Homo sapiens: one gene and its partner. The protein of the gene in region 2 interacts with the protein of the main gene of each other region in a pairwise test. Each region holds a gene or a part of one and is shown on either strand. Other genes may lie near its edges. The genes, in order: TMEM132D and VPS13C.

Region 1 (3,822 bases), on a different chromosome or scaffold from region 2:
AACTTTGATGTTTGCCGTTCCAACAGCTAACACACTCTTCCGCTTGGATTTCTGGCAGGATTCACTAATAACCATTTCCACCTTGACCAGGGTGCCTTGTCCTTCTGTTTCCGCAGCAATGATAGGCCACTTGAATTTGGGGTCTTGGTGGATGGAGACTACCTTCTCATCCAAAGATGTGGCCATCAAGGAGAAGTCTTTCCCATCGTAAATATCCAAGGGCGTGACTGAGCCATCACTGAACTGGACCCAGCAACTGATGGCTGCTTCCTATGGAGAAAAATATGTAAGTTAATCAAATGGGCCAAAAAGCTCATTGAGCCCCAAGTCTTAGTACAGTAGACACACAACGGCAAAACTATTGCTACAAGAACAAAGACAAACCTTTCAAACAGTGTAGAAATAAGCGATAAGAAGTACCAAGAGTATAAAAGAAAATGAATTCTCACAAAGATGCAAAAAAGCAAAATAAAACAACAACAAAATGACAAAACAGGGCCAGTATTAAACAATCCGTAAGAAGATTTGCTTTTTTTTTTTTTCTCCTGTAGGTGTTGTTATAAAAGGAAGATGGGCCCTTGGGCTGTTCAGAATCAACTTCTGAACAATAATAAATTGCACGACAAAGGAAATTACTGGTTAGTGGAATCATTTACAAGTGTTACACATTCAAATGAAAAATATTTATTACATTATTTTTAAGTTGTAATACTGAGTCTCCACTGATTACTGGCAATACAGATAAAAGCCTCTGATCTAGATGAGGTCCCACTGCAGGGCTGCAGGCTGTGGTTTTGCCAGCCCTGCCTTTTCTGGGTCTGCAGGAGTGGATCTGTCCTGGCCTCAGGCCATAGTCTTGGCTTGGAGGGAGGAGTTAAGCCTGACAGCAGGAGAGGGAGAAGCATCTTGATTGGAGAGTCTTCATCTCTTCCTCCACCCAACCCAACTGGAGGAAACTGGAAGACCAAAAAGCAGCCAGAGCTTGTTTTCACTTTGTTGATTTAGACCAACTTTCTTTGCAAATAGTTTGACCAGGCAGATCATTGGAGATAACCTCCAATTTCATGCCAGCCTTTAATTTTAGTGAAGATGACATTATGCTTGACAGCAGTGGCAGATCCATTGCTTCCTCCCTCCCTCCCTCCCTCTCAGAGAACCTGCTCCGCCCCAAGCCCGAGATGATGAACAGCACTAGGTGGCCCATGACCCTGCCCGCTGGGCCACAGCAACAGCTGATTGAAATGAGACAGCTGCTGCCATTAGAGCCATCAATCTCAGCAATGCTGAGCCAGCCAGCATTACTCTCTCTCTCTCGAACTTGAAACCAGAAAGACAAGACTGACAAAGTTATGCTTGGGAAGATGTGTAGTGGGGGCACATATAAAATTGGGGAATGAAGCCCTCTGATGGACTATGTATAAGCAAATGTTTGGGCATGGCATTTATCCATAGGAAGACAATAATGAATTAGACCAAAATAAAAACACAGGTGAGAGAGAGAGTGGGCATGAAAGTGCTGACCTTCCCTTTCCTCCAAGGTCTTGCAGCTGGGTTCTGTGAGATCCCTATAATCCTCATAACACATCCTTTGTTATTTAAGCTTTTGCTTGAGTGGATTTTTTTTTCTCTTATGACCTACTGGCCCCTGACCATGACAGAAGTAATTTTACACAGTTGTTGTTTAGTCTTTGGAAGTAAGAAGAAAGTCTCCTCAAATGTGGCTGGTGGCCTCTGCTCTTTCCTTCAGCTCAGCCAAGAAATACTTATTCTGTTAGACACTGGCTTGGACTACCTGCTAAGCGGATAACCTTGCCAAGGCACAGTGCAAAAGCTACTGGACATGACACTGACTTACCAGGTTCTCTCAATCGGCCATGAAATCTGAGCAGAGCATTCAAACGCACAACGGAGTTCTTGAAACTACCACTGTCAGAGCCAAGTTGCAGGCAGGGAGTAAGAGCCCTGCAAACCAACCATGGAGCAAATCTCAGGGTAGCGTGTTTAGCTCTGCATGTCAGGAACGGATTAGCCTTCTGGCCTTCTTCTAGCTGCATCTTATCCCTTCCTTAACGCCTAGCTGGTGGTCCGCTGATGTTATCACCCACAAAGACAGAGAAAAGCCTCAGGTTATTTCTTCATTGCTATCTGTAACTTGCCTCTCGGCTGGCATCCTTCCTTGAGAAAAGGAGGTTTGCTTTGGCCAAGAATTCGATTCTGTTATTGGGATCAACCACTTTCAAGTGTTTTCTAACCCAAAACTCTGCAAACAAAGACTGTAGTATAAGGACTAGGAGATTAGCTCATGCCTGAGAGGGGAGCATTATGTGACAGGTGCAGGCTGGGAAAATGGGAAGGCTCTTTGTGCCCCTTAGCAAGTCCAGTGTGGCACTCCTGCCTCCTCTGAACATGGCCACAGCCGCAGCTGGTGCATGAAGGCAGGGAAGGCCTGGTACCTCACCCTGCCGAGGAAGAGTGCGCAGAAAAGGCTCCTGATCCAGAAGGGAAGCAGTCAGAACAATGTCCCATATGGGCCGGAGGGATTCCAGCTGCCCCACATGAGGATGATCCCTTTTCATGGGGCAAAAGAACTAATGACCTGCAACCACCATGTTTTGTTATTAAGCAAGCTTCACCCAAATTCCTATGTTCTAAGAAATAATGTTTATCCACCTCTAATGAGGGAGAACTTACTACATTCAAAGGTCCCCTATAACAGTCCCCTTTGTAAGCCATTGTATCCACATACAAACACATGCATCACACACATACACACAACACACATACACATATACATGCACACAGGCACCTATACAACACAAGCATACACACAACAGAAAATACACAAGACACACATGCATACGGACACACATAAAGCAAAAACATATATGACACAGACCCACAACACACACACATATGCACACATACAAACAACAAATAGACACATGCAATGCATACATACAACACACGATACATTCACAACACACATATATACATGCATACAGGTGCCTATACAACACAAGCACACATGCAACACACAACACAAAACAAGCAACACAAAATACTGACACAAGACACACACATGCATACACAGACACACAAAAACAACATATATGTACACAACACATAGACACACAACACACATATACATATGCACACAACACACAAAACACACTCTATTAGCTCACACTGGTTCCAAATAAAGTAAAAGAAAATTGTGACTGACATCTCCATGAATTCTCTGTTTCTGCCTTGAGCTGAACAATGAATGGTCTGGAAGCGATCTCCCGCCACAGGCTCCCCACTCAGCAGGTCTGTCACCCTCCGCTCCAGCAGGACCTTGGCATCAGGCTGTGCACCTGCTCTGAGCCTGCACGTGCCCTCATGCCCTCATGGAAGCAGGAAGCGTGTGGAGAGCACAGGTGACCACCTGCATGCACTTGCACTATGGTGGATGAGGGGTGGGCCTTTCCTCCAGGGCTCCTGCCCCTTAATGGCTTCTCATTTTTCACATGTTGCAATCCTTATGTATATATGTATTTATTTTTTTCATCTCTGCATGGGGGAGCTGGGAAACATGAGGCAGAGGAGTCACCTGCTTCAGAAGAGCCCTTTGCAGATGGAGAAACAAACGCCCGATATATGATCCCACTCTATTGTGCGACCCGCCTGGCGTGGTGCCTGCCTGGTGTGTGATCCACTTGGTGAGGGACCCTGCTGAAGTGTGTCTCAAGCCCTCCTCCATACCTGTTTTGGCCTCTGCAGAAGTTCCTGAGCCACTGCAGTGGCAAAGATGGCCCTGTTGCTTCCTGGGCTGAGCTGCAA
Region 2 (3,822 bases):
CATGAAATTACTCAAAGCCAGCTACAATATTTGTCTCTTATGCATTCCTCAGAGCATAGCTATTTATTCAGTGTCACCCAACTGGTGATTATGTGTTGACGAGCAATCTAAGAGGACCCTGAAGTCTAAACTGATCCCTATTAGAGGTGCCACCTGGAAATGTTTCTCTCCTTCTATTTTTTAAACCAATAACACCTTCAAATAAGTAATATTAATATAATAAACACTTAACTAGCCATCAGATTCCATCAGCTTCTGTTCTAGTAGTATTTCAAAAGCCTTGTAAAACATTCTTTGTTAGCCTCCCTATGCCAGAGAAAGGCAGGTCAGAAAAATATTACTTCTTTATTGAGAGGAAATTGGAACACAGGTTAAGTGACTCATCTTTAACAAAAGAATATGTGGAGTCAGTTTCAGTGCCTGACTCCTTAGTAAGGCTGCCCCAAAGAAGTATGCTACGACAATTTCTTAACAATATATGACTCAAGTTCCTTTTAATCAAGAAAAATGTGCTTCAGTATCTAGGTTTCTGAGGTGTTCTCAAAAAACAACATAAAAAGATAACACACAAGAGTTCATTAACAATTCTCAAATATTCTGGTCTCACCCTTAAAAATCACTGAGTATACTAAAGAGCTTCATTTATGTTTTATCTACCAATATGTACTCTATTAACAATTAAAACTGAAAAAAAATTAAAAATTCATTTAAAAATAAAAATTACATGCTAATATAAATAACATTTTTAATCAAAAATAACTATTTTAAAAATACAGTGAGAAGAGGAACATACACATATATCTCTTTACTGCCTGCCTTAAGGGAAGACAGATAAATTCTCGTTTCTGTTCTGCATTCAATCTGTTGCAGTATCACCTTCATTAGTCTCTGGAAAACTCCACTATACACTCGTGAGAGAATGAGAATGAAAATGACATATGAAAAGAGTTCTGACCTCATGGACAGAGCCCTTAAAAGGGCTTCAAGGATCCTAGACCACATCTTAAGAATCACTGAAATAAAAACTATGAATGAATATGCATAGTATCATTCTATCCAAAGATATTTTAAGATTTCCTTACATCAAGCCTTAAATTCCATTGTCTCTTCCCCTCCACTCTCTCAATCAGTGGCTCCCAGACAGCATGGATCTCATTGTAATAGTGCACCTGGAAAGATACACACAAAATTATAAGACAGTCCTTTGGCTTTAATTACATATTTCTGTAACCAATAGGGAAATTATTAAGTAATCAATGTTATATATCATTAGCCATTTTCAAAACCCATCTAACAATATATAGAGTGTATTTTCCTTTACTCTCTTACTCTATTGTCATAAATTATTTAGCAAATCAATCTTTAAAAAATAATTATCAAAAAACAATACATCGACAAATTAAATGTCAGAACACACTATCTATTCACATATGTACTCATAGTGGCCATGCACAAACAAGAAAAGTGTATATCTTAATTCCAAAATCGCACTTTCAAGAAGTCTCTGAAGGTATTAAGTGATGTGGCCATACCTGTAGTGTCACGTCAGCAACAGCAGCCATTAGAGAAGTCCAATTTTTAATATTTCCTGAAAACTTAGACTCTGCCAATAATAAAGGTACAGTTCGATGTCCAAGGCCACATTCTAAGGTAACTTGAATGGATTCTACAACAACACCACAATTTTCCTCTATCAGTGAATGTTCAATGCCTTTGAAGCTTTCCGTTATTTCTGTTGCCGTGTCAACACCAAGAAACCAAGTGTTATAATCATTAATCGATTTGATACCCCAAAGATTTTCCATTTCCTTAGACGTATCTTTGGATCCATCTTCTTTTGTTTTTGGAGACAATGCAGCCATGATTGTCAACACAGTATTAAGAATTATGGGTGAAATCTTTAAAAAAGAAAGCAGAAAAATATTTATAATAAATTCTTTCCCAGATGAGAATATATACATACATGATTTTAAGTGACATACATTAATTATAAGTGACATTTTTAAATTAAATTTTAATTTTAAATTAAAGTAACTAATTTAAATTTTGAATAAATTCGTAACCAAGAAAAACAAGAGAGAACACAAAATTATGTGTCAAGCCAAGTAATCATGCAACACTGACTTCTACTCAGGTTATCTGGAATTAAATAACTAATGTTATATGTCAGTAGTCAAAATCTAAAGTTAAGCTGATCAATTCAGAGCAAAACAGTGTTATGTGAATAGACAAGTATAGCAATGTAAACAAATTCTTCATTTTAAAAACAGCTACATTAACTAAGCCAAAGTGTGTGATCCTTGTCAAGATACACATAAATATCGGTATGCAACAAGATCTTCTGAAAAAAAAAAAAAGGAAGAAAAAGATATACATTTGCCTTATTAAAGCTGGAAGACTCAAAATCACAGCTCTCCTTTGACTTACCCCAAGATCTATAAATCCTACCTCTTATTATCTTTGGACAGTGCCTTTCTTTGCTCACTTCCCTCACTTCCTATTACTGTGCCTTAGTTCTACACTGATGACATCTTCTACGGCCAACGCCCTCTCAGCCTACACTCCACACTGCCACCAGCATAATTTTTCTACAAACCAAATCTGAGTATGACATTCTTATGTTTAAAATCTTCATCAACTTCCCATAATTTTTTTATCCCACAAGATAAAATTGAAACTCTCTTTAACTTAATGTGCAGAGCTCTTTGTGGCCTAGTGCCTATTCAACCAGCTAGCCAGGATTCTCCCAAAGTTTGAGAAATACTAGGTTAAATAAGTTAACTGTATTCCTTTATTGTTCACTTCTCACAATCCTTACTTAAAATGTAAAGGGATATAATTATATCATCAAAAGCAGGATCTAGTATGTATTGTTTTCCTAACTTACTTGTCAACTTTTTTTCCGTGTCTTATTAATGTCACTTATAATTAATGCTTCCAGTCTTACAACGCCACCACACCATTCTCTCCAGCCATATGTGACCACCCCTCTAAATCTTTTTTTTTTTTTTTTTTTTTTGAGACGGAGTCTCGCTCTGTCGCCCAGGCTGGAGTGCAGTGGCGGGATCTCGGCTCACTGCAAGCTCCGCCTCCCGGGTTCACGCCATTCTCCTGCCTCAGCCTCCCAAGTAGCTGGGACTACAGGCGCCCGCCACTACGCCCGGCTAATTTTTTGTATTTTTTAGTAGAGACGGGGTTTCACCGTTTTAGCCGGGATGGTCTCGATCTCCTGACCTCGTGATCCGCCCGCCTCGGCCTCCCAAAGTGCTGGGATTACAGGCGTGAGGCCACCGCGCCCGGCCACCCCTCTAAATCTTAAAGGATTTTTTCACACCTCTGCCTTTGTGCATATTATCAGTTCTGTCTGGATAAACCTTTCCATGCTCCCCATCTATTTAATCTCCCTTCAAAACTCAAATCAAATAGTCCTGCTTCTACACAGCTTTCCCTGATGTCCTGGTCTGAATTAAAGGCCCCATGCCTGTGCTCCCAACTGCATCTTGGCCATGCCTCTAGCACTGAAAGCTGTAATCACTGATTTCTTTCTTTCTCCCGCATATGTCATTAAGTTTTTTGACAGCAGGGGCTACATATCCCCAATGCCTTGTAAAGGACATTTTTTTAATACACAGTAAAAGCTCAAAAACGTTTTTTGAATCAATCATAAATTTATACACAAAGAATGTAAAGTCTCACCAGCACCTAACCTAGTGCTTTAAAATATGCAAATTCGAGGAGTTTTTCCCTCATTTACTACTTTATATATTTTTAAAAGTAAATCCATTAACAATATACATTCTAAGACTATCCAGTATTTTAAAA

Evidence for each region.
Region 1: the proteins of VPS13C (region 2) and TMEM132D interact in a two-hybrid assay, tested with the Homo sapiens proteins (one large-scale study listed by BioGRID).

The regions. Positions count from the first base shown.
Region 1 is NC_000012.12:129,074,790-129,078,611, forward strand, and holds part of TMEM132D (transmembrane protein 132D precursor), read right to left. Parts: coding exon 3,745-3,822; intron 287-3,744; exon of another isoform or gene 271-286; coding exon 1-270. UniProt on the Homo sapiens protein: Regulate neuronals morphology via inhibition of the WAVE regulatory complex (WCR), a complex that controls F-actin cytoskeletal dynamics.
Region 2 is NC_000015.10:61,920,865-61,924,686, forward strand, and holds part of VPS13C (intermembrane lipid transfer protein VPS13C), read right to left. Parts: intron 1,899-3,822; coding exon 1,533-1,898; intron 1,170-1,532; coding exon 1,083-1,169; intron 1-1,082. UniProt on the Homo sapiens protein: Mediates the transfer of lipids between membranes at organelle contact sites. Necessary for proper mitochondrial function and maintenance of mitochondrial transmembrane potential.